2 separate regions of the Homo sapiens genome follow, and region 2 is linked to region 1. Evidence: fine-mapped expression QTL. Tissue or cell type: whole blood. Region 1 holds a variant in brackets; the other region holds the start of a gene. Each region is shown on its reference strand, or each on the opposite one.

What was found. PIP is the estimated chance that this variant, and not a neighbour inherited with it, causes the effect.
Region 2: it holds the start of C4BPA, and the variant in region 1 is the best candidate, but not a certain one, in a credible set for the expression of C4BPA in whole blood (TOPMed, PIP 0.53).

The regions. Positions count from the first base shown.
Region 1 is chr7:50,249,593-50,253,995 of GRCh38, forward strand. No RefSeq gene overlaps it. Among named protein-coding and RNA genes, the nearest start is that of IKZF1, 53 kb to the right of the region's middle. The variant C/A (reference allele first, on the strand shown) is at 2,109.
Region 2 is chr1:207,101,839-207,106,241 of GRCh38, forward strand. C4BPA (complement component 4 binding protein alpha) reads left to right here and starts at 2,395. Exons shown (of 12, transcript NM_000715.4): 1 at 2,395-2,592.

The DNA.
Region 1 (4,403 bases):
GCCATAATTATTTGCAGATAATATGATGTTCTGTAGAAAATCCAAATGAATCTGCTGATGAATTATTAGAATTAAATAATGGAATTTTAAAAGAATGTGTGATACAAAATAAATAGAGAAAAGTTAATTGCATTTGTATACCTCAGCCAAAAGTATTTACAGTGTGGAAATTTAATATTAAGTAATATGAAATTTACAATAGAAACCAAAATTGTAATTACCTAGGAATAAACATAATATTAATAGATGTACAAATTTAGAAGACCTAAACAAAAAAATTAGATATCTGTATAGGAAGACTTAATATATTAAGATGTTAATTATCTTCAAATTCATCCTTCTATTCAAGAAAAATCCAAATTTCCAGCAGGTAATTGGTTACATCAAGCTAGCTCTAAAATTTATATGTAAGAGCCAACAGTCAAAAATGAGCATTGCTGAAGGGAAGAATACATTGGAAGGATGGACATTATCACATATCAAGACATACTATAAAAATATGATCATTGAGATATGTTTTATTTGTATAGAGATAAACAAATATACTTACAGAATAGAGTACCCAGAAACAGACTTAACAAAAAAATAGAAACCCAGTTATGACAGCTAGCATTGAAGAACATGGGAAAATGGACAGCAACAATTACTTTTACATAGGGAAGAAAATGAACTAGGATTCCTATCTCACATAATACACTAAAATCGTTTCAAGGTAAATTTATGACATAAATGTTAAAAGCAAAACTATAAAAGTTTTGAAAGGCAATGTAGTAGACTATTACCATGTATAGGGAAAACTTTCTTAAAGAGTCGAAAAACACATTCGCAGAAATGATTAACCAATTGGTCTGAAAATTGAGGTACAATGAAGACGTGAAAAGATGATACACATCGGAATAAAATATTTACAACACAGATCACTGAGCAAGTATTTTTTAAAACATATAAAAGAGTCCCAATATATAGATACAAAAAAGACAATTCGATGGAGAAGTGAACAAATTACTTCAATGGGTACTTCATGCAAGAGAAAAATAAAATATGAAAAAGATGCTCAATCTCATTAGTAAGCAGGGGAATTCCAATCAAAGCCACAATTATATTACAGTGGCAAGAAGCTTAAAGATTGACAATATCAAGTGCCTAGGACATTGTGGGACAGAGGAGTAGTGAGTACTTTCTGTGCCTAACACACAGGAGGGCGGTTGTGTAACCAGTGTTACAAAGGGTGTTCCTTGACCATGAAAAGCAAGTCCAACAAAAGAGTGAAGAAGCCAAGTGGTTTTAAGTGCAAATCAAAGTCCCTCAAGTTAAAGCAAAACCAGTCACACTGACTATATTTTCAATGTATTCATTTAGTGCACCTAAAATCCATTCAGTGTCCAAAACTCTGATGATCAAATTAATTCAAATAACAATATCACAAAATCATAGTAATGTGCAAACCAGCTGCCATCTATTTTTGTAGCCATAGTGAGAGATTATATTTTAGATGATGATAAAATAGTCACTAAAATGATTTTTAAATTGTTAAACTATTACAAGCATAGTCAGTACTTATTATGCTTTATTATGATCTGAAAGTCACACAAGTTTGTAAACTATCATTATTATAAGAACTGTTTTAAAACAGATGACAGGGGTTGTGTTTTTTCGTTATTGTTGTTTTGTTTTCTGTCTTTTAAGACATTTTCTGTGAAGCAATAGATTCATGAAGGAGAGAGAACAGCATTGATAGGAAGTAACTAAAACTTCATTTCATTCAGCTTGTGCACATGTACCCTAAAACTTAAAGTATAATAAAAAAAAGTTAATAGATCCTCCATGAGCTTTAATATCCAATGTCCTCATTGTGAAGTTGCCTCAATTACGTGTGCTACAATTTGCAAACCAGTTAAAAATAAAAATGATAAATTGGCAACTAAGTTCAGCCAGTCCTGGAATTCTAAAATTCTAGGATACACCATTGATTACTGGTAAAAATACGAAGATTCTCCATCATCTTGAATTTTATAATTCTGACAGCTTTATGGAAGGAACATATTCTGCCATTGTCCTGGGCATCACTCTACAAGCTTTCTTGCTTGTAAGTAGATCTGAGCCAAGTG[C/A]CAGGGCTGCAGAAGCAAGTTCTAGGGCTTTGGAGTCAGACAGCATTGGATTCCCACTGAATTAAGTACTGTGCTTCTGCGCCTAGCCTCAGGTTTACTATGTATAAATGAAGTCTAAATAACCACCTGGTGGGCTAGTGCAAGTATTAAGCACAATAATGCCTCTGAAAGGCCCAGGACATTCTTGGAACAGAGAAGCTCTGTTTCTGCTCAGCCTGTCTCCATTCCTGCCTGATTAGCTCAGGACGCCACAGAGAGCAGGAGGGGCAGCCACATAACAGGTTGGGGGGTGTGTCCATTGGACCAGCTTGCATATCATCTCACCTCTGACTGCACTGTCACTGGCCCTCATGTGCTCTCCCTTCTTTGTCTGCTAAGACCCTCCCAATGGTTTGCTGTTGACATCCAACCTCAGCTCTGTTCCCTAGACTCCGATGCACATCTCTCCTCTCCAGAACCTGCCTCTATGGAGTGGCATTAAACATCTGCCATCCTGAGCCCTCGCTGGTATGGTCCCAAGACCTCCCACAAATGTCACAAGTACCACCAGATACCTGAAACATTCTTTCCCCAACTCTTGTCAGAATGTCCCAACCATAGGCTCTCAGCTTCAGTTCTGCCTGCCTGGTGACATGCCGGCCTGAGGCAGTAGGACAGCCTTGCATGTTTGGCAATAGAGCTGTGCTTCTCTGAATGATTTAGGAATGATCTGGGTATATTAAAAAACTAAAAATCCAAGGTGTCTATTATGATACATGATTGCCAAATCTGCCACTCTTTATCTCCCAGTTGTTCCTTGTCCCATTACAATTTGGTTTAGAATTAACCCATTCCCTCCAACCGTTCTTGCTGGCTTGTAATTGTAATATGTATGCAATGGACACAAAATCTGAAGCATCTCTTCCTGAGTCCCGGTCTGCCTCTAACTTGCTTTGTAAATAGTCACTCTGTCTGTTTAAAGTGTCTCCACCCTCTTCCTTCTATCTTCTGTTAAGCTACAGGAATGCTGTTTTCTAAAATGCCATCCTTTATGGAAAGATCATGACATTCCTTTCCATAAAATCCTAAAATGTCAAACATAAGAATCATTTGGTTCTTTGTAATACAGCTCTAGCTTTACCTCCCACTATTTTTTCAAAACCTAATATGTACCTTATATTTATTTCTTCATGTATCTTACATTACAAACATATAGACCCATGTGCACTTTTCCAAATTGATCATATTCTTTCTTTTTACAGTAATGTTTTCTGGAAACAATCTCAAATTTAGAGATAAGTTTCAAGAACACTACTAAAAAGTTTGTACCTTCAAATCATTGATGGCAGGTTGTGGACATAATGCTCAATCTATCCCAAACTAGAGTACATTTTCTAAAAACAAATAAATTACCCAAAAACATATTCCATAAGTCTATCAAAATACAAAACTAAAATTGTTATATGACTGCCATTCAATCCACAAACCCAATTCAAGTATCGTCATTTGGTCCAAAATATCCTTTATAGCAAAGGGATCAAGTTTAGAAACATGCATTGCTTTTAGTTATAATTTCTCTTTAGTCTTCTTCAACCTGAAAAAGTTACTCAGTATCTCCTTGACTTTCATGTTCTTGACAGGTTTGAAGAATACAGGCCAGGTGTTTTAGGAATTTCTCCCAATTTGGATTTGCCTGGTGTCTCCTCATGATTTGCTGTGCTGTGATTTGTCTTGCTGTGTCCTATCAAGTGAAACACAGTTTCGATTTGTTTCATTACTAGTGATGTTGACTTTGATTGCTTAAAGTGGTAAGTGTCATGTTTCTTCACTGTAAAATTGTTTTTTTCCTTTTTAATTGAGGGTTTTATGGGTAGCTGCTTTGAGAGACTATGCAAATATCCCATGCCTCATTAAAGTTATAATTTGTTCACTTATTTATTGTCTATATCACTATGAACTATTGGTTCCCTATTAAATTCAGTGGATTACAATCCATTACTATACTGATGTATTTTAATGTTTAAATTCTTCTAGATTTGAACAGTGGGACCCTCTTCAAGTTTTCTTCTGTGTCCTTTTAATGTGTTCCTTTTCAAACCTTAACAACTTTCTTACTTTATCACAGCAAACTATTCCAAGCTCATGTCATATTTTCTCTGTTCTAGCTTTGAAATCAACCATTATTCCAAAGATCCATGGTTCCCATTTGGTGGAAATGGTATTGCAAAACCAAGAGCTGGATCTAGGTGTACTCATTGCTATTGAATGTTGCTGTTTCTACTATTTCTTGGAGACAGAGCTAGGGCATATCATTGT
Region 2 (4,403 bases), not on the chromosome of region 1:
ATGGGATATGTTTAGGAACTTGCACATAGCCTGGACTGGCCTAGATGAAGCATGGAAATTGGTGAGAGAGAAGGTGGCTGGAAAGATAAGTCAAAGCCAGTTTATGGAGGCTTTTGAATGACGTGCTAGAGAATATACACTTGTTTTTGGTAGGCAGAGAATATACATTTGTTTTTTGGCAGTCAGACCATGAAGACATGGAAGCCTTGCAAACAATGAAGTAATAAGGACAGAACATAAAGAAAGATTTCTCTCACAATGTTGGTTGTAGTATTGGTTGATGAGGGAAAAGAACTAAGAGAAACCAACGAAAGGACTCCTACAATAGTCCATATGGGAGGCATTATCAACCTGAACTGGTTTGGTGGCAGCAGAAATGAAAAAGCAGCAGCAGACACGAGAGATATTGAAAACTTGTATCAAAACAACCTGTCAACTAATCAAACATTGAAGGGTGAGGGAGAGGAAGAGTTCAAAAGTGAATCTGAAATTTTATTCCCGAGAACCAGAGGTCAGAAAAAGCTGGGGTCAGAAAGTGAAGCTTGTTGGCCGGAAATGAGAAATTCCTCTTTGGATGTGCTGAGGGTGAAGTGCTTGCAAGATGTCCAGTGGGGGGAAAAAAAAAACAAAACCTAAGAAAGTAAGTCTTGAGTTTCGGAGAGTAATCAGAAATAATAATGTAGTGCTGGCTAGTCTTCTTACTGGTAATAGTTAAAGCTGTGACAGAAGGCAAGATCATTAAAATTGCGAAGATAATTTTTTTAAAAAAAGAAGAGCCTGAGATATATCTATATTTAGGAATGAGAAGGAGGAAGAGAAGGTAACAGTAACTAAGAAAGAGAAATTAGTTAAGTTAAGGGAATCAGGTAAGTTTAGTGTCATGGAAGCCAAAGGAGAAGAGAGTTTCAGAAAGGAAATGATCAGCAGTGACAAAGGCTGCAGACAGATCCTAAGAAATGAATTAAAGATATTTTGGACTTGGACCTAAGGGCGTGCCTCAGAGAGACATGTCAGTAGAAGAGTGGTAGAAGCCAGATGGGAAAGCAACAGGTGGAGTGATGAATGAGAAAGAACAGGCAGGTAGAACAAGTCACACCTTTGAGAAGTTCAGCATCACACTAAAGAAGAAAGGTGGAATTTGAGGTATTGGCAAAATTGAAGGGACATTTCAGGATGAGAGATGCATTGAAAATGAGGCAGGAAAAGAAGAAACAATTCTCCTCGGAATGAGGAGTGAATAGGAGGGAAAATTTGACATTGATGAAGCTAAGGTAGAATGATTTTTAGTAAAGTAGGAGGTAAGAGCATCTGCTGAGAGGGAATGTGACAATTTGGTGACCTGGAGAGAAAAATCTGCAAGAGTCACTGTGGAAAGTAAACGAAAGGACTTCAATACATTGGAAAACGGTACTTTAAAGAAATAGCAGCTTTAAAGGTGATATTTCTTCCAATTTAGTCTCAAGACTGTGCAATCTGGAATCCTCCTCTATCTTCATTCTGGTCAAATCAGTGTCTCACCTTGGTGACCTAGCGCATGGTTTCTTTACATCTAATATCCTTACCACTTTTATCTAATAATTTCTACCTTTTATCCAAATCTCACATCTTCTGTAGAAACTTCCTTGATTAACTCAACCTGTTGTAGTTTAGTTCCTTTTCTGAAACTCTTCTGGGACTTTCAGTATTTATTACAGAAAAAGTGAAGTTCTCAGAAAGAATTGCCTTTTAATAGCAATCTTCTGAGCACACAAATCTTAACCTTGAGGATTAGTAGCTTAATTGGACTATGTAAGTGCTTGTGGTCTTTTTAGATCTATGCGAGAGGAAACATGGCCGGTCCTTCATTGCGTTCTTCTGAGCGCACTGGATAGATCAATTTTTGGAGGCCCTCTGGTGCCTGACATGTAGTAGCAGTTAACATTTGCTGAACTCCAAATACGTTCTAGATAACTCAGCACATAGTGGAAACCCAATGCATGTTTGATAAATTCCCCACCTTTTGTAATTCCTTGGGGTGGGATAGAGACGAGCTCTGGGCAAGAATATCAGTTTTCAAACTCCAGGAAAGCATACTGGACCTAGTGTCATGGAAAGTGGATCATTTTTGCGGAGGCTCTCTGAACCTCGCAGTATCCAAGGTTTCCAGGCTAGCTGGACTGTGTCTTGCCATAACCCTTATGTGTTTATGAAAAGAAAAAAGAATTCTGGCTTCAAATTCAAATTACCTTTCCACTTAGGGGAAATGGTTGGCAGAGGAGAAAATAAACGATTGCGACATGTTACGAAGAATGAGGACTAGCAAAGAGGAAGGAGCTTAGGTAAACAGTGCTGCTTTATTTCTGCTGTTAATCATTCATTGGGCCCGTCAAAAGTTTCTGCCCATCTATTTCCATCAACCGTCCTTGACCAGCCAACCACATGGCTGAAATTCAGGGACTCTTTGGTGGAGCAATTACCAGTCAACTTCAGGGTATTATGATAAACTCTGATCTGGGGAGGAACCAGGACTACATAGATCAAGGCAGTTTTCTTCTTTGAGAAACTATCCCAGATATCATCATAGAGTCTTCTGCTCTTCCTCAACTACCAAAGGTCGGTGGACTACTAAACCCTTGGGGAAGCTTGGAGGAAAGGCTGGTGGTTTGGCCCTTTAAGGAGTGCAGGATTAGAAGGATAAAACAGAGACAAAAGCTTGGAGGTGTTTTCAGCAGAAATCTTTTCAGGAGCACTGTATTAGGGGGATGTAAGACTTGAGACGTACTTTAAACCCTATCTGAACCTCAAGTTTTAAAAATTATAAATGGAGGAATAATATTGCATTCTAATAAAATAAGCTAAAGAAGAAGAGGTGTAAGGTGTTGCTCTTGTTACTGTATCTAAAAGACAGATGTGTTGGTTTGTTGATCTTTCACCACCTTCCCACATCAGAGTTGAGGCAAGGGGTCAATCAGACTTTTCAAAGGGTTCACAGGAAGCTTGCTTTTCTTAGTCTACATTCTGAAAACTGGGGCCATTTCTATTTTGAGATTTGATTAACCACTCCAAATCTCCTCCACCACTGACAGCAAAGATGTTTAGATTTGGTAATAAGGAGGACACTGGCCAGCCTCCAGTTGGTTTCTGAAGCTAGCAGTCTTAGTCGTCCTCATCTTCTTTACTTTCTGAATTTGACGATGCTGATAACCCTTCCTTCTTGAAATTCTCTTCTTCCTTGGTTGGCCAGGATACAGTACCATTCTGGTCCTCATTTTAATTCTTCAACCACTTGTCTCTTTGCTGATTCCTATTCTATCTCTAAATATGGTAACACCAAAAGAATAAAAAGTAGACTACAGAAGAGGCAGAAGCATCAAAGAAGGTTGGCATTAAGCTTAGAGATATGTTTGAATGTAGTATGAGCACAGAATAAAGGGGCTGATAGAAAAATAAAGAGATTTGGCCAGGTACGGTGGCTCACTCCTGTAATCCCAGCACTTTGGGAGGCCGAGGCTGGCGGATCACCTGAGGTCGGGAGTTCGAGACCAGCCTGACCAACATGGAGAACCCCTGTCTCTACTAAAATTACAAAATTAGCCAGGCATGGTGGCACATGTCTGTAATCCCAGCTACTTGGGAGGCTGAGGCAGGAGGATCATTTGAACCAGGGAGGCAGAGGTTGGGGTGAGCTGAGATCGTGCCATTGCACTCTAGTCTGGGCAACAAGAGTGAAACTCCACCTCAAAAAAAAAAAAAAAAGAAAAAAAAAAGAGATTCTAGGAAGGGTGGGGAAAGTGTGGGAGCCAGTTCTTTCTGGAGTTTGTAAGTGATATAATTGAGAGCCCAGGTATAAGGAAGAAGACACTCAGCCCGAGACTGGAGAAAAATACTATCCTTTCACAAGGTATCTGCATTTTAAAAGGGGGAAGTTAGACAAAATAAATATTAACTTAAAAAGTAACTTCTCATGGAAGGAGAAATTTGAGGACTAAAGATTTTTCCAGTGACTCTCAAATTGCACTGCATTGCTAAGTGCTGATATTATTTTTCACAAGGGACCCGCCATGCTGACTAAAGTTCTTGAGTTGGTTCCATTTCTGCAGGAATTTAAAAGGTGAAGTCCTTGAAATATGAAAGTTGGCTAGAGTAGTCTCAGCTTTTCAGTGAGCAGTTACAGAATTGCAGAATTTGTTCATCTAGGTTTAATGTCATTATTTTAGAGATGGAGGGAACTGATATCCAAGAAGCTGATATAGCTTCTTCAAGATCACAGACTTAGACTGTGGTATTGCTGGAACTCCAACTTGTGTCTTCTCAGCTCGCAAGTTCTAGCCTCCATTCCCATACTCTGTGGCCAGCTGGTTTCTGCTGAGGGACCACCAGGAGTAGTTATGGTGAACTGCAAATGCCGTAGTTGGAGAAGAGTT